7 linked regions of the Homo sapiens genome follow. The protein of the gene in region 4 purifies or fractionates together with the protein of the main gene of each other region. This does not show direct contact. Each region holds a gene or a part of one and is shown on either strand. Other genes may lie near its edges. The genes, in order: MCMBP, CIZ1, DYRK2, TRIOBP, SKAP2, RDH13 and UACA.

Region 1 (3,500 bases), on a different chromosome or scaffold from region 4:
TAGTTTTTTTGGATAACCAGCTACTCACTGACTCTCTTTCAGGATCTGAATTTGGTCACTGTATCTTATCCGTTCTAGGGGTTTTGTTTTTGTTTTTGCTTTTTTTGTTTTTGAGATGGAGTTTCGTTCTTGTCACCCAGGCTGGAGTGCAACAGTGTGATCTCGGCTCACTGCAACCTCCTCCTCCCAGGTTCAAGCAATTCTGCCTCAGCCTCTGGAGTAGCTGGGATTACAAGTGCCTGCCACCATGCCCAGCTAATTTTTTTTTTTTTGAGACTGAGTCTTGCTCTGTCACTCAGGCTAGGGCGCAGTGTTACAATCTTGGCTCACTGCAGCCTCTGCCTCTTGGGTTCAAGTGATTCTCCTGCCTCAGCCCCCTGAGTAGCTGGGATTACAGGTGCATGCCACCATGCCCAGCTAATTTTTGTATTTTTAGTAAAGACAGGGTTTCACCATGTTGGCCAGGCTGGTCTTGAACTCCTGACCTAGTGATCCGCCCACCTTGGCCTCCCAAAGTGCTGGGATTGTAGGCGTGAGCCACCACACCGAGCCGCTAATTTTTGTATTTTTAGTAGAGACAGGATTTCACCATGTTAGCAAGGCTGGTCTCGAACAGGTGATCTGCCTGCCTCGGCCTCTCAAAGTGCTGGGATTATAGGCGTGAGCCACCGCGCCCGACCCAGACCCTCATCTCCAATGCTACTGTCAAAATTAAAGCCATCGTAGTCTCTTTCCTGGACGCTGGAACAGCCCTCTAACTGGTTTCTTGCCTCCAGTCTTGCTTCTCTTCCACCTGCCATACTGGAACCAAGTCCTTCAGTGACTTCTTGTTACCCTTACTATCTGATCCAGGACTTTTAAAGTGGTTTATGAGGCCCTTGTTGGCTCCACCCTTGCCTTGCTCTGAGACTTTATCACTGCGTACCCCCTCCTCATACTCCATCCCAGCCGCACTGAACCTTTTTTCAGTTCTTTAATTTTGAACCTGTGTCTAGGCCTTTTTGCATCTGCTGATTTCTTGTGCCTGATTCCCCCTCCCATCCCATGTCCACTTTTCTGGCTAAGTCTTACTTTTCCTTTGGGAACTTAAGTTAGGTACCAAAGTAGGGTACCCCTGCTCCATGTTACTGCAGGATCCTATTATATATGTCTTTGAAAAATAGTGTGTAAAGTGCATTGTTGAAATTCCTTGTTTCGGAAGTTCCTTTGCTGGATTTTGACCCCGCGAATTCAGGGCCCCTGTATCTGCATTATTCACCACTGTATCCTAATTTCTTAGAATTTGCCTTGTACATTGAAAGTGCTCAGTGGACACTTGTTGAACAAAAGCAGTGAAAAGACTGATTAATCAGAAATGTTGTTAATTGAAATGGCTAGTGAGATCACAAATCTCAAAATTTTTCTTTTCTTTTTTTCTGGAGTCAGTGTCTTGCTCTGTTGCCCAGGGTGGAGTGCAGTGGCGTGATCTCGGCTCACTGCAACCTCCGCCTTCTGGGTTCAAGCCATTCTCATGCCTCAGCCTCTCGAGTAGCTGGGATTAAAAGTGTGCACCACCATGCCTGGCTAATTTTTCTATTTTTAATAGAGACAGGGTTTTGCCATGTTGGCCAGGCTGGTCTTGAACTCCTGGCCTCAAGTGATCTGCCCCCACTTGGCCTCCCAGAGTGCTGAGATCTCAGGTGTGAGCTGCTGCGCCCAGCCTCTTTAGCTGTTTTCCCTTCAACTATTGGTTAGACCAAGATCATTATTCTCGTTATATTTAAGCTTCTTTGGTTGTATCTAACAGAACTAGACTAGCTCATGCAAAAAAGAGCAGGGTTGGGTGAAGAGGGGCAGAGCAGACTATTTTATCACTAGCATTTTAGAGAATTTAAAGCAATAATAAAATGAACTAAAAGTTAGTTGGTCTGCTTTTTATTATCACCATGAATCTAAACAGACAATCTGTGCCCTTATTGTCTGTACCCAGCTTGGACCTCTTCTACCACTCTGTCCTTGGTAGGCCACTGAAAAAAGTTAATTTATATTAAGGCTATAAAACCCAAGAACAGGGGAAGTGGTTGGGTATTCGAAGAGACTGAGTGGAATCAGGAACTGGAAAGCTAGCAGGAATCCAAGCAACTCAGTATTTCTTCTCTTGGGATACATTAATCTCTGCACACTTTCTCTTTCTCTACTCCATGTCTCCCAAATTTACTTGTTCTCGGTTCCAACCCACGCTAGCTAGCATCTTTATTTTCAGGCATAGAAAATCTGATTGGCACAACATGGAGTCAGGAATCCATTCACTCAGGGATCAGTCATCTGTGGCCATGGCACAGAGTTAGGTAGGACAATCGTGACTGTTATCCACACCTCAACATTGGGGGCGTTCTCAAAGAAGAAGAATAGCTCCGGCAGCCATGGCAGATGGCATACGTAGGAGTTTTTAAGTTATAATAACTTACACATGGTTTTAAAAAAAATCAACATGATGGTATGAACTGAGTGAAAGTACGTGCTCCCTCCATTGAAGTAACCACTTTTTTTTTTTTTTTTTTTTTTTTTTTTTGAGATGGAGTCTCGCTCTGTCGCCCAGGCTGGAGGGCAGTGGTGCGATTTCGGCTCACTGCAACCTCTCCCTCCCAGGTTCAAGCGATTCTCATGCCTCAGCCTCTTGAGTAGCTGGGACTACAGGCGACCACCACCACACCTGGCTAATTTTTGCATTTTTAGTAGAGTCGGGGCTTCACCGTGTTGGCCAGGATGGTCTCGACCTCCTCTGCCCTCGTGATCCACCACCCTCGGCCTCCCAAAGTGCTGGGATTAGAGGCATGAGCCACCGTGCCCTGCCTGAAGTAACCGCTTTTAACTGTTTTTGCTTTTAGAGGTTTTTTTCTTTGAGACAGAGTCTCGCTCTGTCACCCAGGCTAGAGTGCAGTGGCACGATCTCTGCTCACTGCAACCTCTACCTCCCAGGTTCAAGCAGTTCTACTGCCTCAGCCTCCCGAGTAGTTGGGACTACAGGCGCCTGCCACCACACCCAGCTAACTTTTTGTATTTTCGTAGAGATGGTGTTTCACTATGTTGCTCAGGCTGGTCCAAAAAAATTTTTTTTCTTTGAAATAAAATTCACATAACAAAATTTAACATTTTAAAATGTACAATTGAATTTTTTTTACTGTATTCATAATGATGTTGTGCAACCATCACCACCACTATCTTTTTCTCTTTTTTTTGAGACGGAGTCTCACTCTGTTGCCCAGGCTGGAGTGCAGTGGTGCAAACTTGGCTCACTGCAACCTCTGCTTACCGGGTTCAAGCGATTCTCTTGCCTCAGCCTCCCAAGTAGCTGGGATCACAAGCATGCACCACCATTCCTGGCTAATTTTTGTATTTTTAGTAGAGACGGAGTTTTACCATGTTGGTCAGGCTGCTCTTGAACTCCTGATCTCAGGTGATCCACACGCCTCGGCCTCCCAAAGTGTTGGGATTACAGGCATGAGCCACCACGCCCGGCC
Region 2 (3,500 bases), on a different chromosome or scaffold from region 4:
GTTCTTCGCGGTTGTAAGTGAAAAAAATTCTAATTTCTATAAGACAGAAATTAGCTTGAGCAAAAAGGAACAATGTTTCTGGCTTAGGTTAGTGGGAATATAAGAGATACAGCTGGACCCAGGGGATACCATTTCTTAGAGAGGCTCCATCTCTCACTACAGTGGGCACCAGGTACCCACAGCCCCAGCCTCCCTGCACAGTGACTTCCAAGGAAGGGCAGTCACCTGTGTCTGCGGTAGCAGAACAGTTTCTAGTGGAAATGCTGGTTAATCTGATTGTGGTCACGTGCACGTTTCTGAAGCAATCCCCTGGCCAGGGATAAGGTGTTCTGACTGGCTAGGCCTAGGCAGGCCAGCTCTACCCAAACCACATGGAAATACATTTCCCCATGGAAGGCAGGGGGGTGTTCCCAGGAATGGGGCTGAAGGCTGGATCCCAATACCCTAGCTGGTGGGGGTGCCCGTCTCCTCCCTCCTCAAAGCCCCCAGGGCAGGTGCTGTGAACTAAGCCCTTGCCTACCTTAGCTATTTCTTTGTTTTTTTTTTTTGTTTTTTTGTTTTGTTTTTGAGATGGAGTCTCGCTCTGTCACCCAGGCTGGAGTGCAGTGGCGCGATCTCGGCTCACTGCAAGCTCCGCCTCCTGGGTTCACGCCATTCTCCTGCCTCCGCCTCCCGAGTAGCTGGGACTACAGGCGCCTACCACTAGGCCCGGCTAATTTTTTGTATTTTTAGTAGAGACAGGGTTTCTCTGTGTTAGCCAGGATGGTCTTGATCTCCTGACCTTGTGATCTGCCCGCCTTGGCCTCCCAAAGTGCTGGGATTACAGGTGCAAGCCACCATGCCCGGCCCGCGTTGGCCGTTTCTGGGCAGCCTCAGACGTGACACTGGCACAAGGTGTCTGCCTGTTTGATGACCATGTTCTCTCCCCACCCCCTTTCTTCATTTGTTGTGTTTTTCTCTCACAGAGATCAAAATGCACATTGAAAAATAGAGCCAGGCTGGCATGGTGGCTCACACCTATAATCCCAGCACTTTGGGAGGCTGAGGTGGGGGGATTGCTTGAGTTTAGGAGTTCAAGACCAGCCCGTCATGAGACCTGTGTCTCTGTAAACTATAAAAAAATTAGCCGGCCGGGCGCGGTAGCTCACGCCTGTAATCCCAGCACTTTGGGAGGCTGAGGCGGGTGGATCATGAGGTCAGGAGATCGAGACCATCATGGCTAACACGGTGAAACCCCGTCTCTACTAAAAAATACAAAAAATTAGCCGGGCGTGGTGGCAGGCGCCTGTAGTCCCAGCTACTTGGGAGGCTGAGGCAGGAGAATGGCCTGAACCCAGGAGGCGGAGCTTGCAGTAAGCCAAGATCGCGCCACTGCACTCCAGCCTGGGCGACAGAGCGAGACTCCGTCTCAAAAAAAAAAAAAAAAAAAAAAAAAAAGAAATTAGCCAGGCCTGGTGGCATGCACTTGTAGTCCTGGCTACTTAGGAGGCTGAGGTGGGAGGATTGCTCGAGCCCAGGAGGTAGAGGCTGCAGTAAGCCTTGATCATGCCACTGCACTCCAGCCTGGAGCAAGCTGCTTTAAAGTCTGATTTTGTTGCTTGCAGCAGTATTAAGAAGATTTTACTGAGGACAGTAAATGTCCCTAAATCCTAAAATCTAAAACCTGGTACTCTCACTGTGTGGCTGATGTGCCTTTTTTGACTACAAAAAAATTTTTTTTTCTGATTTTAAAAATAATTCGCTCATTATATAACGTTTTGAAAATACAAGGACACAGACACATGAGAAGATAAAAATCACCCATAATCCCATTACCCAGAGATAAACACTGTTTACATTTTGACCTAGTTCTTCTTGTGATCCTTTCTGGATTTATACAATCTTTAAAAATAAAAATCGGAATCATGCTACATGACAACACGAACACTTTCTGTCTCTAAGCAGCCCTCCCCAGCAGAGCTCTTACAGGGCTTTATCAGTGGACATGTGTCCCCTAAAATTTATGAAAACTTGTGTATTTGCATATTTTATAGAGAGTCCTTATTTTCGCTGAGTGAGACACTTTTTTTGGTTTTTTTTTGAGAGGGAGTCTCGCTCCGTTGCCCAGGCTGGAGTGCAGTGGCGCAATCTTGGCTCACTGCAACCTCCGTCTCCCAGTTCAAGCAATTCTCCCGCCTCAGCCTCCTAAGTAGCTGGGATTACAGGTGCCTGCCACAACGCCTGGATAATTTTTTTGTATTTTTAGTAGAGACAGGGTTTCACCATGTTGGCCAGACTGGTCTTGAACTCCTGACCTCAGTGATCCGCCTGCCTTGGCCTCCCAAAGTGCTGGGATTACAGGCGTGAGCCACCATGCCCAGCCAGGGTTTTACATGTATTTGGCTTTTCTTTTTTCTTTTTTTTTTTTTTTTTTTTTTTTTTTTTTGAGACAGTGTCTCACTCTGTCACCCAGGCTGGAGCGTAGTGGTGTGATCACAGCTCAATGCAGCCTCAGAACTCCTGAGCTCAAGGAACCCTCCTCCCAAAGTGCTGGGATTACAGGCGTGAACCAGCGGTATGCCCAGCCTTGGTTTAAGAAGCTGCCTACATAAAGGATACACTCTGGCCAGTGATAGCACAGCCCTTGTCATTGACATTTGTTTGCTTTTTAATTTTCTTATATCTTTCAACATGTAGAAGTTTTAAATTTTTATGCAATCGGATCTATCAGTTTTTTCCTTTATGATTTCTGGCTTTGATGTTATATGTTGCAATGATCTTTCCCAACCCAAGATTAAATAGTTGCTCTCCCCTTGTAAAATAAGTATTATTTTATTTATTTATTTATTTATTTTCTGAGACGGAGTCTTGCTCTTTTGCCCAGGCTAGAGTGCAGTGGCGCGATCTTGGCTCACTGCAACCTCCGCCTCCTGGGTTCAAGCAATTCTCCTGCCTCAGCCTCCCGAGTAGCTGGGATTACAGGCGCGTGCCACCACACCCGGCTAATTTTTTTTTTTTTTTTGTATTCTTAGTAGAGATGGGGTTTCACCATGTTGGTCAGGCTGGTCTTGAACTCTTGACCTTATGATGTGCCTGCCTTGGCCTCCCAAAGTGCTGGGATTACAGGCGTGAGCCACCGTGCCCGGCCCTATTTTATTTTATTTTTTGAGACCGGGTCTCTCTCTGTCACCCAGGCTGGAGGGCAATGGTGATCTCGGCTCACTGCAACCTTAACCTCCTGGGCTCAAGGAATTCTCCCACCTCAACTTTCCAAGTAACTAGGACTATAGGTGCACACCACCATGCCTGACTAATTTTATTTTATATAGAGACAAGATCTCACTATGTTGCCTAGGCTGGTCTTGGACTTCTAGGCTCAAGCGATCCTCCTGCCTCAGCCTCCCAAAGTGCTGGGATTATAGGCATGAGCCACTGCGACTGGCCCCCTTTTTATTTATTTATTATTTATTTTTGAGACAGCGTCTTGTGTTGCCCCAGCTGGAGTGCAGTGGCAGTCATGG
Region 3 (3,500 bases), on a different chromosome or scaffold from region 4:
ACCACAGAGTTTATCTGGTTCTATTCTTTCAATTTATAGATGAGGAAACAGACTCAGACAAGGTAACTGGTTTCATCAAGATTCCCCAGCCAGTTCATATCAAGGCCAGAGTGAAAGCCTACATCCTCCTGCATCTAGTTTTAATATACTGATGGAGACTGCTAATTCTAGGAAATTGTACTAGCCTCATTATAAATGCAAGAACCTTTGTAGATCCATATTCCCATATGTCTGTCAGATTTTTATAAATTTTTAGTTATTATTTCCAGAGTAATTACACCTAGGAAGAACTTCTAGAATGAATGGGGGGCGGGAGGGCATTAAGGAGATAAAAATGATCTTGTCATAGGAGCTTGCCCACATTTTCTCTTACAGGTGATATAGTAGGCAGGTTAAATATATGATTATAAAGATTATAAACTTTGGAATTTATCTAGACCATTGCCCTTTTGTTTTATATCTCCATGTATAAGTTGTTTTACACTTTAGTTATTTCTGTTTGTGTGAGAGAGAGAAGTGTGCCCAATCACTGTCTTACTTCCTATTATTTTTCTATTAATGTTAATTGGTAGTTATTAATAGAAGTATTTTTAAATTCAAAAATATTAAAATATGTATAACTTTTGTAACTGTTTTACTATGTAAAACACTCCAGTTATCAGTTTTACCTTTATAAAATAATTCAAATTGAAATACACATTTTAAAAAATGGCAGTATTTTGAAGAAGAAAAAGTAGACATTTTTCTTTCTGACAGGGCCACACAGACTGTCAGAATGTTTGAGGAGGAGCTAAAATTCCAGTCTTTTTGGACTCAATTCTATTACCATAATACTATACAGCATTTCTAAGATGACTTCAGAAAAGTTTTTAAACGCCCAAGACTATTATCACAGTGGAATATCTGCTGTTTGCCATTTTCTTATTGGAAGAAATGAAAACTACCAAACTGGTTAGACTATTGTTTTTATATAATATTTAATACCAAAGTACTTGATGATCAAAGAAGCCTTTGCAGGTCTCTCAATTCGAACCCATAAATTGTAGCTATTTTAACAATTGTATTATGTTTTTATTTTTTGTTTTGTTTTGTTTTGTTTTTTTGAGACGGAGTCTCACTCTGTTGCCCAGGCTGGAGTGCAGTGGCTCCATCTCGGCTCACTGCAACCTCCGCCTCCGGGGTTCAAGCGATTCTCTTGCCTTAGCCACCCAAGTAGCTGGGATTACAGGCACCCGCCACCATGCCTGGCTAATTTTTGTATTTTTAGTAGAGATGGGGTTTCACCATGTTGGCCAGGTTGGTTATGAACTCCTGACCTCAAATGATCCACCTGCCTCAGCCTCCCAAAGTGCTGGGATTACAGGATTGAGCCCCTGTGCCCGGCCTCAGTATGTATTTTTAAATGTGACACACACTGTGCTATACATTGGCATATCGGAATAAGCCATGATCTCAGACTTCAAGAGGCTGAGCTGGAGGGAGAGGTTTTTAGTATCCTTAAGTTTATGATGTAGTCTTGACATACGTATTCTGGAAATGTTCTGGCATTTCTAGTCCCTCAGCACCCCCACCCTGCTCTCTGCCCCATTTTTTATAAGTCAGTTAATTGTGCTTTTGAGCTTGATTGTGATTTTAGAGTCCTGCAATGTTTGAGATTCAAAGTCTTCTTTTGCTAGAGCTTCTCAAATGAATCTCTAACATCTGGAAAGCTTTTAAGATTGCATGTGTTGCTTTTAGGTGTTTGGTTGATGTGTTTGTTGCAAGTGTTTTATACATGGTTTGATTGATGTGTCTGCTACAGGTACTTTATGCTTGGAGGTCCTTGGCCTCCAAGTCTGTGCGGATCCACTGCAAGCCTAACGTCTTGTGACTTAGGTCACCAGGGACGTTTCTTAATTCCCTGGGCCTTGACTTCATGTTTCCTTATGAAGGTACACAATGTAGTTCTCAGGAACAACTCCAAGAGAGGCAAGAGTTAACAAGGAGGATCTATTGGCATGTGTTCTTCCATCCCAAAGATATTTATTGAGGGCTTACTATATGCCTGGGTTTATGTTAATGAGGACTTGGAAACATAAGAGGGGACCCAGCCCTGGAATTGCTCACAGCCAGATGAGTACATCTGATGTTAAAACAATTGCAATAAAGAGAAATAAGTAAAAGGGTGAATCACCTAGGTATGAGAAAGGAGATTACAAGAAATATCTGGAAAGGACAATAATAATGCTCTCATTGACTGACTACTAAGCACTTTACACATATTACCTTATTTAATCCCCCTAAAAGCCCTAATGAGGTAACTTTGTTACCTTCTTTTTGCAGACAAGGGCACTGAGGTTAACAGAGATGAAATAAGTTGCCCTGGGTCACACATTTAGTAAATGGTGGAGCTGGATCATTTAATGTGTGTCTAACTGAAAATCTACCATTATGAAACCTGACCTCACTAAAAGCAGAGGAGTGTAAAAGTGTGTGGTGTTTTTTGGGTCCTGGGCTATCTAGCTTTGTTCTCTTGGAGAGAAGAGTGACAGTAGTTGATGAGAATGGAAGGACTCCGATCATTTAGCCTCTACATTTTAGAGCCTTGTGTTCTTACTGGTAAGTTCTTGCATTAGCTATGGAAATAGGTTACAGCCACAGGCCTTGGGCAAAAGCAAGAGTGGTCTCAGGTTGAGACTTTTAAATCAGACTCTAGAAGCACTATGGAGAAGAGATTTGAGGAATTCTAGACTTAGAAGCAAGGGGGCATGTTACGATGCTGCCTCAGTTGTCCCAGTGAAAGACATCAGGAGAGTGAGATGAGGCAGTGTTGATGGAAAGGGCCTGGGATAGTAATGATGCATCTTCTTGGTGACTTGGGAAGGTGAGGGAGGTGTTGAGATTTTCCAGGCACACAGTGCTGAGGATTCATTCGCAGGTGGATAGCCTGAGTGACACATGGAGGGGAAGCCTTCTTTTTATCAAAAATGGAGGATTATGGAAGTGGGAAACTGGTTTGTTAGAAAAATCATGAGTTAAGTTTGAGTTGCTTATGGGAGAGGGAGCTGATCGATAGTTGGATATGTGTGTCTTCCACTCAGGAGATAGCACCTTGGAAGGTCTGAGCTCAGGGAACAAATGCGCAAACATCAGGCCATGGGCAGTTGCTGAAGCCCTGGCTGTGTTCAGGATCAGTTGCAGGGGGTTATGGGAGTAAGAAGCCAAGAGAATCGAGATTTGAACCCTGGGGAACTCTTGAATCCACCTAAGGTTAGGTAGTAGTTGATGCTGCAAAGGAGACCAAGAGAAGGCAGTTGGAGATATAGAAGATGGTCGTTTCTTGTCAGTCTCGTTAGTTTTAGTTACTAAAACATTTGTGATCATGTATTAAATTATGCGAAACACAAAAATTGCTTGAAGTAAATTTCTGAGGCTTGGTTTTACTTTGCTGTGTTTTTAGAAATCTCTAAAGCCCCAAGGTTAATTTTGTCCTAATGAAGAGCTTTATGCTTTTTATAGCA
Region 4 (3,500 bases):
AGGCTGGAGTACAGTGGTGCGATCTGGGCTCACTGCAAGCTCGGCCTCCCAGGTTTATGCCATTCTCCTGCCTCAGCCTCATGAGTAGCTGGGACAACAGGCACCCGGCACCACGCCCAGCTAATTTTTTGTCTTTTTAGTAGAGACAGGGTTTCACCATGTTAGCCAGGATGGCCTCGATCTTCCTGACCTCGTTATTCGCCCACCTCGACCTCCCAAAGTGCTGGGATTACAGGCATGAGCCACCGCGCCCAGCTTCTACCAGTCTTGATACCTCCAATAATAGCTCTCTTGTGCTCACCTGCAAGTTCAGGTTCAGGGAACAGATGCCTGGGAGTCCATCTTTCATGCAAATGACTTTCTTCCAGTGGTTGGGAAGATGGCAAGAATGGAACAGGAGAGCCGTGGATTCAGGCTCGTCTGAGTTCTAGTCTCAATCCCACCATTTCCCACCCGAGACCGTGGGTCAGCTCACAAATTCATACGTACTGAATAGGTGCTTAAAATGTGCCAGGCATTATGCTAGATGATGGGGAAATCATGATAAATCAGAAAGGCACAGCCAGGCACAGTGACTCACTCCTGTAATCCCAGCACTTTGGGAGGCCAAGGTGGGTGGATCACTTGGAGTTTGAGACCATCCTGGCAACATGGCAAAACCCCATCTCTACAAAAAATTTAAAAAATTAGCTGGGCGTAGTGGGATGCGGCTATAGTCTCAGTTACTCAGGAGGCTGAGGTGGGAGAATCACCTGAGACTGGGAGGCGGGGGCTTCAGTGAGCCGTGATCGCATTACTGTATTTCAGCCTGGGTGACAGAGTTGGACCCTGACTCAGAACAGAACAGAACAGAACAGAACAGAACAGAACAGAACAGAACAGAACAGAACAGTACAGAAAACAGGGAGAAGGAGGGGAAGGGGGAGGGGAAGGGGGAGGGGGAGAGAGAGGAGGAGAGGAGGAGAGAGGGACACATCCCTGGCTTGTCTTCATGGGGCTTATATTCTAGCAAGAGAAATGCACATGATTATTTAATCTTGGTTGTGATAAATGTATAAAGGAACAGTAAGTGGCATGAAGGTAAAGGATAGGGCATTAGGGAAAGTTTCTCCAAAAAAAAAAAAATGACATTTCAGCTGCTTAGTAAAGGCTGTGCAGGCATTAGCATTAGTGAAATTGCAGGAAGAGGAGAGGAAGGAAGGAGAATGTGCAAAGGCCAGCCTGGCACGGCAGCTCACGCCTGTAATCCCAGCACTTTGGGAGGAAGTGCTTGGATTGAGGCACCGAAGCAGGAAGATCACTTGAACTCAGGAGTTTGAGACCAGCCTGGGCAGCACAGTGAGACCCCATTTCTACCAAAAAAAAAAAAAAAAAAATTAGCCAGGCAGGATGGTGCACACCTGTAGTCCCAGCTAGTCAGAAGGCTGATGTGGGAGGATTACTGGATCCCAGGAGTTCAAGGTTGCAGTGAGCCATGAGCATGCCAATGCACTCCAGCCTGGGCAACAGAATGAGACCTTGTCTCAAAAACAAAACAAACAAACAGGTCAGGTGCAGTGGTTCATGCCTGTAATCTCAGCACTTTACGAGGCCGAGACGGGTGGATCACCTGAGGTCAGGAGTTCAAGACCACCCTGGCCAACATGGTGAAACCCCATCTCTATTAAAAATACACAAATTAGCTACATGTGGTGGTGGGTGCCTGTAATCCCAGGTACTTAGGAGGCTGAGGCAGGAGAATCTCTTGAACCCAGGAGGCAGAGGTTGCAGTGAGCCAAGATTGCACCACTGTACTCCAGCCTGGGCAACAGAGCGAGAATCCTCTCAAAACAAAACAAACAAACAAAGAATATGCAAAGGCCCTGAGGCAGAAAGGAGGCTGCACATCGGGCTGGAGAGGACAGGCAAGAGGGGGGCACAGAGGAGCTATAGGACAAGGATGGAGAATGGGGGGAGGCCTGGTCTCACTGGCCTTGTGCGGCTTTGTGGACATGTTGAGGACTTAGGATTCTGAGGTTTTTTTCTGTTTTGTTTTTGTTTTTTTTTGAGATGGAGTCTCGCTCTGTCGCACAGGCTGGAGTGCAGAGGCGTGATCTCGGCTCACTGCAACCTCTGCCTCCCAGGTTCAAGCGATTCTCCTGCCTCAGCCTCCCAGGTAGCTGAGACTACAGGCATGTACTACCAAACCCAGTTAATTTTTGTATTTTTAGTAGAGATGGGGTTTCACCATGCCGCTCAGGCTGGTCTTGAACTCCTGGCCTCAAGCAATCTGCCCTCCTTGGCCTCCCAAAGTGCTGAGATTACAAGTGTGAGCCACCTCGCCCGGCCAAGCCACGGAAGATTTCAAATAAGGGAGTGACGTGCTCTGATTTGCATTTTTCACAGTCACTCTGATTGCTGGGCAGAGAGAATGGAGGGCAGGGTGGTGAGAGTGAATCAGGTGACCCGCCAGGAAAAGGTGCACGTACTCATCGGTGCCAGAGATGATTGGGGCTTTGAGATGGAGGCAAATGGACACATTTCCGAACTAATTGAGCAGGCACGTCTACAGGATTTGGGGGTGAGGGAGGGGAGAAACCCATGGCTGACTCCTGTAATTTCTTCAGGCAGGGTACTTGGGTTGGGAGGTCTGTTTGGAGTTGTCTGGGGCATGGTGTGGGGTGTCGGCAGGATACAGTGGAGATGAGGGGGAAGTTAGTGAATTGGTGGGGCTGGAGCTCAGAGCCAGACCATCACAGGAGATGGAGGCCTGCGAGTCTTCAGGATCTGTCACTGACCAAAGTCTTGCTCACGGATGAGCCTATCATCTGTGGAAGAAAGTGTGGAATGAGATGAGAACAGGCCTGGGTGGAGGCCAGGGAATCAGCAGAGACAGCCAAGAAGGCCAGAGGCTAGGAGGCAAACCCCACAGTGTGCCCCTCCTCCCCAGGAGCCAAGACCAGAGATGGTTTCAAGAGAGGGGGCCAGGCACAATGGCTCCCGCCTGTGATCACAGCACTTTAGGAGGCTGAGGCTAAAGGATGGCTTGAAACCAGGAGTTTAAGACCAGCCTAGTTAACAAAGTGAGATCCCATCTCTACAAAACAAAAAATGAACTGGGTGTAGTGGTGCATGCCTGCAGTCCCAGCTACTTGGGAGGCTGAGGCAGGAGGATTGTTTGAGCCCAGGAGATTGAGGCTGCAGTGCACTGTGATCATGCCACTGCCACAGCAAGACTATCTTAAAAAAAAAAAAAAAAGATCAGAGAGGGGCACGACATCAAATCCTCCACTTTCTTGAGCTTCCAGTTGCTCTGATGATGATCAAGGCTGTGAAACTCTCCTTTGGCAAATGCATGAGGGGTGACTGTTGTGTCTCCGAGCCAGGCCCTGGGACCCAACTCTGGGCAGGTAGCAGCTCCCTGTGTATACCAGATGTGATAGTAAAAAACTGACACTGGGCCGGGCGCGGTGGCTCACGCCTGTAATCCCAGCACTTTGGGAGGCCGAGGCGGGTGGATC
Region 5 (3,500 bases), on a different chromosome or scaffold from region 4:
CATGAATTTAGAATTCAGAACAAGTATTGCTTATGACATCAAATTTTATTGTGATGTATCAGGTGGAAATTTAGTCAACACTTTTCTTAAAGCAAAAGACTCAGGCTATGTGTATATTGAACGCTAGTAAATTCTAATTTCCCTTCTCCTTTTCCTTTTCCCCCACTTCCTCTCCCCTCTCCCTTCTTCCCATCTCTCTCTGTCTCCTTTTTGACCAGTAACATTTTAGAGTTGAAAGCTATGCTAAAGGTACCCATTTCTTTTCAGAATAATTTAACTTTTCTTAAGATTTTGTGAGCATCCATTCCTTATGTAAAGAGCATTTATTATGCCCAATGGAAGTGAGAGGGTTGTGGGACTACCCCTTAATGAGACCAGATCATTCCACAATTATCCACTTTAGATTAGTGGTTCACCAGGACTTGTTTACAGAGATAAGATTTCTGTTTGTAATTTTTGTTTTATGTACAAAATCCTATAATAAATAATTTATACCTTTATATGTACCAAGTTTATTTTGAAAAAAACTGGATACATTTATTGAACAGCTATTAAAATATGTACACTGACTTTCCCTAAAATTTCATATACATTTCAAAATCAGGGCTCTATTTTAAATATGTTTTAATGATACTGTGTGGTGTTTACTGGGTGAAGTTGATCCACCAAGGAGCTGAAATTAGTGCTCTAATTTTAAGCTTTATTTCTTAAGAAAAAATATCCATGACTTTATCACTACTGTGATCCCCATGGTATTAAAAAAAAAAACTGGTAAAATTAGGTGATGAGTTTGTAAATAATAAACTTCCTATCAAACCCATTCTTTTTTTTAATTTTTAATTTTTGTGGGTACACAATAGGCAAATTTATGGGCATATTGTATGTTTTGATACAGGCATACAATGCATGATAATCACATCAGGATAAATGAGGTATCCATCACCTCAACCATTTATTCTTTCTCTGTTACAAAGAATCCAATTATATTTGTTTAGTTATTTCATTTTATTAATTTATTTATTTATTTATTTATTTATTTATTTATTTATTTAGAGACAGGGTCTCACTCTATTACCCAGGCTGGAGCGCAGTGGCACAATCATGGCTCACTGCAGCCTTGACCTCTTGGGGGATCCTCCCACCTCAGACCCCCTTCCCCCCACCTCTACCCTCCTCCTCCACTGGCTGGGACTGCAGGCGCGTATACCACTACACCCAGTTATTTTTAAATTTTTCGTAGAGATGGGGGTCTCACTGTGTTACCCAAGCTGGTGTCAAACTCCTGGGCTCAAGCGACCCTCCTTCCTTAGCCTCCCAAAGTGCTGGGATTGTAGGCATGAGCCATTGCACCCGGCCACTTAGTTATTTTTAAATGTACAATAAATTATTGTTGACTATAGTCACTCTGTTGTGCTATCAAATACTAGATCTTATTCATTCTAATTACATGTTTGTACTCAAACACATTTTCTATCCTAAGTTGTACTGAAACTATTTCCACTGGATGTATTCCATACAAACTTTCTTTTGATTGGTTGTTTTCACTTGCTAGAGTTCTAGTAAAATGCTGAGGATAACTATTATATTTCTTTTCTTTTCTGTTTTCGTTTTTTTCTCTTTTTTTTCCCAGGCTGGATTGCAATGGCGTGATCTTGGCTCACTGCAACCTCTGCCTCCTGGGTTCGAGTGATTCTCCTGCGTCAGCTCCCAAGTAGCTGGGATTACAGGCACCCGCCACCATGCCTGGCTAATTTCTTTTGTAGTTTTAGTAGAGACCAGGTTTCACTGTGTTGGCCAGGCTGGTCTCGAACTCCTGTCCTCAAGTGATCCACCCGCCTCGGCCTCCAAAAGTGCTGGGATTACAAGCGTGAGCCACTGCGCCCGGCAGATAACTATTATATTTCTAATGAAGTTTATAAAAATATTGAACACTTGTAAAATTGAGTAACCTATAATCCATGACCGTGAATATACAATTTCTAATCAACTTAACTTTTGCTTGATTTAAAAACTTTTTTTAGGGATCCAGTATTTGTTTATAATAGTTTTATCAGATCTGTCTAGTTTTAGACTCTTAAATGCCCTATAAAAACCTAAAGCATACTCACTCAGTGGAATGTCCATAACATTTCTCTGAATACAAACACAGAGAATATTTGCTGTGGGCTCAGAGAAACAAGTTTCAGCATTTGATTCGGAAAAGCATTTTATGTTTTACTTGGTAGGAATAGGGATTATGCAGGAAAGAGTCAATATGTATTGAAATTTTTAAAGAGTTAATTCAATATAAATATAACGAAGCTATGATTTATTTGAAATTCTTAACCTCTCTTTCAGGGATTTATTGCATTTATTTATAATAGTTTCTCAGTCCTGTATTTTGGGAGGCTATAATAACATATAGGAGTACAGAACTTTTTTTTTTTTTTTTTTTTTTTTACTTTTGAGACTTTTAGGAGGAATAGAGGGGATTAATCTAGGGAATGGATCTGAAACAAAGCTAATAGACTTAGATTTAAACAATTTCAGTAATTAAAAGCACACTGAATCTAATGAGATCTGGCACTTGTTTATTCTGAAATGGATTACCCACTGCTTTTTTTTTTCTCTCCCCAACTTCTCATAGGAGCCCAGTTTCCTCCAATTGCAGCACAAGACCTTCCTTTTGTTCTAAAGGCTGGCTACCTTGAAAAACGCAGAAAAGGTAAACTGAAGGTTCTAATGAAAAATGTAAAAATAATTTCATCCTTAGATAGAACATGTTTGTAGTATACATGTGGAGGCAGTATTCGTTTTAGGTGATTAAAGAGTTTAAAGATTGTAAGAAAATCTGGATGACATTATCCAAACCACAAAATATAGCTCTTAGCTTTAAATAATTTTTAATAAGAAAACATTAGGTTAGGTTTTTAGTTGTCAACCTTGGTTATTTGTAAATGATTCAGGAGCTGTTTCCTGCCTCTCAAAGGAAAGCTGCAGGCCATGACTGTATTCTCAAAGGTGGGATTTCTCACCAGTATCTCAATGGGCTGAGCAGCAGGTTCTCCTATGCCCAAACTGGCATGCACCATGGTTCAGATCAAGCCTGGAGTTTTGTCTGCCATTGTCTATTATTCATTTCAGTGTTCCTCTCCATTGGCTATGATAATTGGGAGTTGACCATATGGTCTCACTCTTTCAACACCAATATTTAATGGAAATGAAATATGGAGGTGGTTTTATAATATGAGAAATGAAAAGCAGACAGTCTTTTCATTACCATTCTGCTTATCTCTCTTGTAGTCCCTTTAGGCCTTTCTATTTATATTTCATTTTGCTTTTCTTAGCTTTCTTAGCTGAATTTTAAAACTGAAAGAGATAACAGAAATAATCTAGGTTAGCTCCTCCCCTTCTTTTTATAACAGATGAGAAAATGAGACCCAGATGGATCAATTATCTCAAGACTGTATAGTCAGATACCTTTTTGACTGTCCCTGTCAGAAAACTTTGTTAGCCATGCT
Region 6 (3,500 bases), on a different chromosome or scaffold from region 4:
CCCAAAACTTCTGTCTCCCAAAGTGCCGGGATGACAGGCGTGAACCGCTGCACCTGGCCTGCCCCAGTGTGGTAGAATACACACCACATAAAATGGACGATCTTCACTATTTTTAAATCCACTGCTGTCTTTATTCCTGGCTGTTGATCTTAGGAAAACACCAAGAAGCTGGTACTTGATTTGCTAAAAAAGTCACAGACACAGCTTTACTTAATCCTCTAGAGAGGCTGGGCGTGGTGGCTCATGCCTGTAATCCCAGCACTTTGGGAGGCCGAGGTGGCTGGATCATGAGGTCAGGAGATCGAGACCATCCTGGCTAACACGGTGAAACCCCGTCTCTAGTAAAAAATATAAAAAATTAGCCGGGCGTGGTGGCAGGCGCCTGTAGTCCCCCGCCACTCGGGAGGCTGAGGCAGGAGAATGGCATGAACCCGGGAGGCGGAGCTTGGAGTGAGCCGAGATGTGCCACTGTCCTCCAGCCTGGGCGACAAAGCAAGATACCGTCTCAGAAAAAAAAAAAAACCCCTCTAGAGAATCCCAGAAAATAGAAGGAATTATTCCATTTCCCGGAAGAGGAACGTGTGGCTAAGAGAGGAGGCATCACCTGCCCAGGTGTGTCCAGCCGGGGTCCTCACTGTCTCAGGGACCTCAGTGCTCCGGACACCTGTGTCCACAAGCCAGAGACAGGATCAGAGGCGCCCTGGGTGGGATTGCCTGGGACAGTGTGCATGAAGGTGACAGTGCTGTACCTGGTACACAGCAGGTGCTTAATAAATGTTCATCCACCTCTGAGACTCTGAGGCATTGCCCTCTCACTGTTCTTTGTGATCTCACCGTAGTGCCTCTCACCTACCCGACAACAGTGCCGGCTCTTTCTTGATCCCCAAGGGCACAGCAGGGGCTCAGTATGAATGAATGAATGAACCAACGAATGTGCACCTGCACCTGCCTCCCTAGGGCTGTGAGTGGCACAAGGACAGCTCTGGTTCATCTCACACCTCCAGCACCTGGTCAGGTCTGAGATCACGTCTGCTAAATAAATGAGGTCCCACAACTCCCCCATTCCTTGTTCATTTCCTGAGTACCCGTTTACTGAGCGGGGCACATTGACTCTGAAGAAGAAAGCTTTGGCCCTTTCAGTGCCAGACTAGAAAAGAAACAAAGCAGCTGGGCATGGTGGCTCATGCCTGTAATCCCAGCACTTTGGGAGGCTGAGGCAGGCGGATCACAAGGTCAGGAATTCGAGACCAGCCTGGCCAACATAGTGAAACCCCGTCTCTACTAAAAATACAAAAATTAGCCGGGCATGGTGGCACCCGCCTATAGTCTTGGGAGGCTGAGGCAGGAGAATCGCTTGAACCCAGGAGGCGGAGGCTGCAGTGAGCCAAGATCGCATCATTGCACTCCAGCCTGGGTGACAGAGCAAGACTCCATCTCAAAAAAAAGGTCTTGCTCTGTCATCCAGGTTAGAGTGCAGTGGCACAAATACGGCTCACTGCAGCCTTGAACTCTCGGGCTCAAGTGATCCTCTTGCCTCAGCCTCCTGAGTAGCTGGGACTGTAGGCACATGCCAGGATGCCCGGCTAATTTTTTTTTTTTTTTAATCTTTGGTACACACAAGGTCTCACTATGCTTCCTAGGCTGGTCTCTAACTCCTGAGCTCAAGCAATCCTAAGAGAAGAGATTTTAAATGTGGTCACCACAAAAACAGGTAAGTATTTGAGGTAATGCATATGTTAATTAGCTTGATTTAGCCATTCTACAATGTATACAATGTACATCATGCTGTACATAATATATACAAGTATACATGTCAACTAAACAATAAATAATTTTAGTGTATTCTTGAGTCTATTTAAAGATGAACAAGAATAGAAAAGCTAGAGGATGGTCCCAGTTTTACATAAAAATATATAAATACACACACAAACCTATTATAAACAAGACTAGAAAGATCCATAAAAGTGATTCTCCTGGGGCTGGTGCAGATCAAAGTTGTTTAGTTCTGTCTTCTTTTTTATTGAGACAGAGTCTCACTCTGTCACCCAGGCTGGAGTGCACTGGCACAATCTCAGCTCACTGCAACCTCCGCCTCCTGGGTTCAAGCAATTCTCCTGCCTCAGCACCCTGAGTAGCTGAGATTACAGGTGTGCACCACCACGCCTGGCTAATTTTTGTATTTTTAGTAGAGACAGGGTTTCACCATGTTGGCCAGGCTGGTCTCGAACTCCTGACCTCAAGGGATCCACCTGCCTCAGCCTCCCAAAGTGCTGGGATTAACAGGCGTGAGCCACTGTGCCCAGCCAGTTCTGTCTTCTTTACATTGCAGTATTTTATAAATGTCCCATAACAAACACATATTTCTTTAACCATGGTGGGGAAGGCACTTGATCAATAAATGCTTAATAAGGTCAGGTGCGGTGGCTCACGCCTGTAATCCCAGCACTGTGGGAAGCTGACCTGGGTGGATCACTTGAGCCCAGGAGTTGGAGACCAGCCTGAGCAACATGGTGAAACCCCAGCTCTAAAAACAAAACAAAACAATAAAACAATAATTAGCTGTGTGTGGTGGCGTATGCCTGTACTCCCAGCTACTTGGGAGGCTGAAGTGGGAGGATCCCTTGAGCCCAGCAGGTTGAGACTGCAGTGAGCCATGACTGCACCACTGCACTCTAGCCTGGGTGACAGAGATGGATCCTGTCTCAAACAAACTAATTATTCAGGTAGGGCACGGTGGCTCACACCTGTAATCCCAGCACTTTGGGAGGCCAAGGGAAGCAGATCACCTGAGGTCAGGAGTTCGAGACCAGCCTGACCAACATGGTGAAACCCTGTCTCTACCTAAAACACAAAAAATTAGCCAGGCACGGTGGCGGGTGCCTGTAATCCCAGCTACTCAGGAGGCTGAAGCAGGAGAATCATTTGAAATCGGGAGACGGAGGTTGCAGTGAGGCAAGATCACACCACTGCACTCCAGCCTGGGCAACAGAGCGAGACCCCATCTGTCTCAAAACAAACAAACAAAACAAAGTCAGCCGGGCGCAGTGGCCCACGCCTGTAATCCCAGCACTCTGGGAGGCTGAGGCAGGAGAATCACCTGAGGTCAGGAGTTCCAGACCAGCCTGGCCAACGTGGTGAAACCCCGTCTCTACTAAAAATACAAAAATTAGCAGGGTATGGTAGCAGGCATCTTAATCCCAGCTACTCAGGAGGCTGAGGTCCGCGCTTGAACCCAGGAGGCAGAGGTTACAGTGAGCCGAGATCGCGCCATTGCACTCAGCCTGGCCGACAGAGTGAGACTCCCTCTCAAAATAACAGTAGTAATAAATAAATAAAGTCGTTGCTTGCAGGCTGTACAAAAAAAGGCAGCAACTGGACTTGGCCCCTAACTCATAGTTTGCCAAAACTCTGCTCTAAAGTTTGCTTGCTTCATTCACTTCTCAGAGCCTGGCCCTGGGAGCCGCCTATCCCAGTCCTCATCCCACATGGCCAGCGTTCTC
Region 7 (3,500 bases), on a different chromosome or scaffold from region 4:
TTGACTTGGCGATGCAGGCTCTTTTTTGGTTCCATATGAACTTTAAAGTAGTTTTTTCCAATTCTGTGAAGAAAGTCATTGGTAGCTTGATGGGGATGGCATTGAATCTATAAATTACCTTGGGCAGTATAGCCATTTTCATGACATTGATTCTTCCTACCCATGAGCATGGAATGTTCTCCCATTTGTTTGTATCCTCTTTTATTTCATTGAGCAGTGGTTTGTAGTTTGCCATGAAGAGGTCCTTCACATCTCTTGTAAGTTGGATTCCTAGGTATTTTATTCTCTTTGAAGCAATCGTGAATGGGAGTTCACTCATGATTTGGCTCTCTGTTTGTCTGTTATTGGTGTATAAGAATGCTTGTGATTTTTGCACATTGATTTTGTACCCTGAGACTTTGCTCAAGTTGCTTATCAGCTTAAGAAGATTTTGGGCTGAGATGATGGGGTTTTCTAGATATACAATGATGTCATCTGCAAACAGGGACAATTTGACTTCCTCTTTTCCTAATTGAATACCTTTTATTTCCTTCTCCTGCCTGATTGCCCTGGCCAGAACTTCCAATACTATGTTGAATAGGAGTGGCGAGAGAGGGCATCCCTGTCTTGTGCCAGTTTTCAAAGGGAATGCTTCCAGTTTTTGCCCATTCAGTATGATATTGGCTGTGGGTTTGTCATAGATAGCTCTTATTATTTTGAGATACGTCCCATCAATACCTAATTTATTGAGAGTTTTTAGCATGAAAAGTTGTTGAATTTTGTCAAAAGATGGGGTCTTCTATGTGGCTTAGGCTTGTCTCCAATGGGGTCTTGCTATAGGCTGATCTCCTGGGCTCAAGTGATCCTACTGCCTCAGCTTCCTGAGTATCTGGGACTATGCTTTTAATTATGCACTAATACACATTGAAATGCTAAGTAAAACGGCCCAGTCACATGTAAATTGTTGCTGATGTTTCCCTATTTCATAGAATTGTTTGAGTTATTTTTTAATAGAAGAAAGGTTTTTTGTTTTGTTTCTTTTTTAGTGTTTATTTTTTAACACTGTAGGCCTACAGATTAAGGATGGCAAATTGTGGATTTGGATCTTATCCAAAGAGTATAGTGTCCCTTTAATAATTGGAAATATTTGTTTATTGTTTATTATGTTCATGACCCTGTGCTAAGTGGGATAAAGAAAGTATGCCATTCCTGTCCCCAAGGAGTTCTGGGTAGTTAGAGAGGCAAAATACAGATTCATAAAAAGTAAAAATCACAAGATGAGAGATGTCAAATGTAGAACTGAGAATGCAGATTCTAAGTGATAGGGGTTTCCAGGAAGGAAAGATTAGTGGTGTGGTAGAAGCTAGTTTTTAAAGAAGGGAGTACCTGGCTTGAACTTGTAACGTAGATGCTATTTTGGTAGGTGAAAGGAAAGTAGAGGCTCTTCCATCTAAAGAAAATAGTGTAAAAGAAGCGTGGAGATGGAATACAAGTGGCATGGCCAGAGGGCAGTAAAAGCCCTGCCTGTAGAGTAGTCCCTCTCTTATCCACTGAGGGTATGTTCCAAGATCCCCAGTGGATGCCTGAAACCATGGATAGGACCTGCTGAATGAACCCTATATAAGCTATGTTTTCCCCCCAGATATACATACCTGTGATAAAGAGTAATTTATAAATTGGGCACAGTAAGAGATTAATAACAACATAATAAAATAGAACAATTATAACAATATGTTGTAATAAAAGTTATGTGAATGTGGTCTCTCTCTATATCTCAAAATATTGTATTATACCATGGGCAACAGAAATAGAGAAAGTGAAACTGCTCATCGCAAAACTGCCAATAAGAGGGGACTGCTGTATTTGAAAGTTAATGTTTGAAGCCAAACTGTGGAAGTCATTGAGAACCAAACTGATGAATTTGGATTCTCTCATGTATGTAAAGAAGTGTCACTCAAGGTTTTTGAGCCAAAAGTGATGTGAGGAAATAGGTACCTTAGTCTCAGAGGCATGGTAAGGAATATAGTGTGGAGATAGTAAGACAGGATGGGAAGCGTTTGCAATAATCCAGACATGTGATAAGTGTCTTCAGAAGTTCATGGCACTAGATATGAACTAAAGCAATAATTTGATGTTGCTTAGGGAAAGTAGCATTACTGTCATTAGCCACACATTCTTTACAGAAGTTTATATTGTTACGTTTTGAAATTCTGCATCTGGTAGGTCCAAGGTAGTTTGTTGTTAGAAGTAGCAGGATCGCCTTAATAATAATAATAGTTTTGTAGCATGAAGCCTGAGCATTGTCCAAAGTTTGGAAATGTGAACGCTGATAGTCACATCTGTCCATCTTTCCACATTTCTAGGATGCTGACAGACAGCACCAAGAAGTAATTGCAATTTATCGGACACACCTTCTTAGTGCTGCACAGGTAAAGAACTACTTCTCCTTTGGAAAGAATATTGCTTTAGAGATAATAATTTTTTATTTTCAAATAAATTTATGTGAAAGTAATTGATGTTTAAAGTAGCTGCACCCCCTATGCTTATTTAAAAATAATTATGTTTCTTTTAATCATTGTTTGTGGATCTCCCAGAAAAATTTACAAAGCTATATGGCAACACAACATCTTAAATTTAGTGTCGTCTCCATCTGCTTGTCACTCAGTTTATAGACAGTTTGGTAACATGTGATGGTAGCACACGTTAATGGTGTTGCTAGCTGGAGATAATGCCTTGACATCCACGTGTGGCTGTCATCTAAGAGGAGAGTGGGAATGGCTTTGAATACTAGAAAAGTACAAAAGTGACAAGCAGGGTGTTATGTGTATAGGATTGTAGTAATTAAAAATGATCTGTTTTACCAAGCCTTAACTTGGCTTGGTAAAGCCAAGGATTAATTAAGGAATAACAGTATGAATTCCCTTTTTTAGGGGTGTACTGAGAAAGTTATTGTTAAAATCATACTAAGAAATTACTAACATATAAAGGATACTATGCTTAATTTCCTGTAGAAACCCCGTGAGCAGCATCTTCAAAATTCTCAGAATAGATTTTTTTTCAGGAAGAAAATGTACTAAAAGAAACAAATTTTAGAATGACAGAGATCCTGGGAATTATTTGGATTTGAAGTATGTTAGGCCACACTGTAAAAACAAGCAAAAAAAAAAAAAAAAAAAAAAAAAAACAAACAAAAAATGAAGAAGGGAAAGATGGATGTTGAGAGAAAGCTTCAAAAAAAGAACAATTTTAAAAAGAGAACTAGATAAAATAATAAAAAGAAAGATACTTTATGATATCAAATTCTTAAAATCAATAGACCTGCCTCTTCTATAGGAAATGGAGGGGAAACTAATGAAAAAGAATGAATGATATGATAGAACAAGGGATCTTAGCTACTCTCTTTTGAGCAAATCAGAGATAAACTAGAATCTTAAAGTTTATTGCAATTATTAGAGAAGATTATTGAGGGACAGTGAATAGGAAGTTCAAGTGGGGAAATAGCAGAAAATCTGTATTAGAGA

What was found.
Region 1: the proteins of TRIOBP (region 4) and MCMBP purify together in Homo sapiens (affinity purification with mass spectrometry; one large-scale study listed by BioGRID and IntAct). This does not show direct contact.
Region 2: the proteins of TRIOBP (region 4) and CIZ1 purify together in Homo sapiens (affinity purification with mass spectrometry; one large-scale study listed by BioGRID and IntAct). This does not show direct contact.
Region 3: the proteins of TRIOBP (region 4) and DYRK2 purify together in Homo sapiens (affinity purification with western blotting; one study listed by BioGRID). This does not show direct contact.
Region 5: the proteins of TRIOBP (region 4) and SKAP2 purify together in Homo sapiens (affinity purification with mass spectrometry; one large-scale study listed by BioGRID and IntAct). This does not show direct contact.
Region 6: the proteins of TRIOBP (region 4) and RDH13 purify together in Homo sapiens (affinity purification with mass spectrometry; one large-scale study listed by BioGRID and IntAct). This does not show direct contact.
Region 7: the proteins of TRIOBP (region 4) and UACA purify together in Homo sapiens (affinity purification with mass spectrometry; one large-scale study listed by BioGRID and IntAct). This does not show direct contact.

Annotation. Positions count from the first base shown.
Region 1 is NC_000010.11:119,866,344-119,869,843, reverse strand, and holds part of MCMBP (mini-chromosome maintenance complex-binding protein), read left to right. Parts: intron 1-3,500. UniProt on the Homo sapiens protein: Associated component of the MCM complex that acts as a regulator of DNA replication.
Region 2 is NC_000009.12:128,171,073-128,174,572, reverse strand, and holds part of CIZ1 (cip1-interacting zinc finger protein), read left to right. Parts: intron 1-3,500. UniProt on the Homo sapiens protein: May regulate the subcellular localization of CIP/WAF1.
Region 3 is NC_000012.12:67,651,745-67,655,244, forward strand, and holds part of DYRK2 (dual specificity tyrosine-phosphorylation-regulated kinase 2), read left to right. Parts: intron 1-3,500. UniProt on the Homo sapiens protein: Serine/threonine-protein kinase involved in the regulation of the mitotic cell cycle, cell proliferation, apoptosis, organization of the cytoskeleton and neurite outgrowth. Functions in part via its role in ubiquitin-dependent proteasomal protein degradation.
Region 4 is NC_000022.11:37,703,548-37,707,047, forward strand, and holds part of TRIOBP (TRIO and F-actin-binding protein), read left to right. Parts: intron 1-3,500.
Region 5 is NC_000007.14:26,739,091-26,742,590, reverse strand, and holds part of SKAP2 (src kinase-associated phosphoprotein 2), read left to right. Parts: intron 1-219; exon of another isoform or gene 220-249; intron 250-2,626; coding exon 2,627-2,704; intron 2,705-3,500. UniProt on the Homo sapiens protein: May be involved in B-cell and macrophage adhesion processes. In B-cells, may act by coupling the B-cell receptor (BCR) to integrin activation. May play a role in src signaling pathway.
Region 6 is NC_000019.10:55,053,149-55,056,648, forward strand, and holds part of RDH13 (retinol dehydrogenase 13 isoform 1 precursor), read right to left. Parts: intron 1-3,500. UniProt on the Homo sapiens protein: Retinol dehydrogenase with a clear preference for NADP. Oxidizes all-trans-retinol, but seems to reduce all-trans-retinal with much higher efficiency. Has no activity toward steroids.
Region 7 is NC_000015.10:70,659,059-70,662,558, reverse strand, and holds part of UACA (uveal autoantigen with coiled-coil domains and ankyrin repeats), read left to right. Parts: intron 1-2,342; coding exon 2,343-2,408; intron 2,409-3,500. UniProt on the Homo sapiens protein: Regulates APAF1 expression and plays an important role in the regulation of stress-induced apoptosis. Promotes apoptosis by regulating three pathways, apoptosome up-regulation, LGALS3/galectin-3 down-regulation and NF-kappa-B inactivation.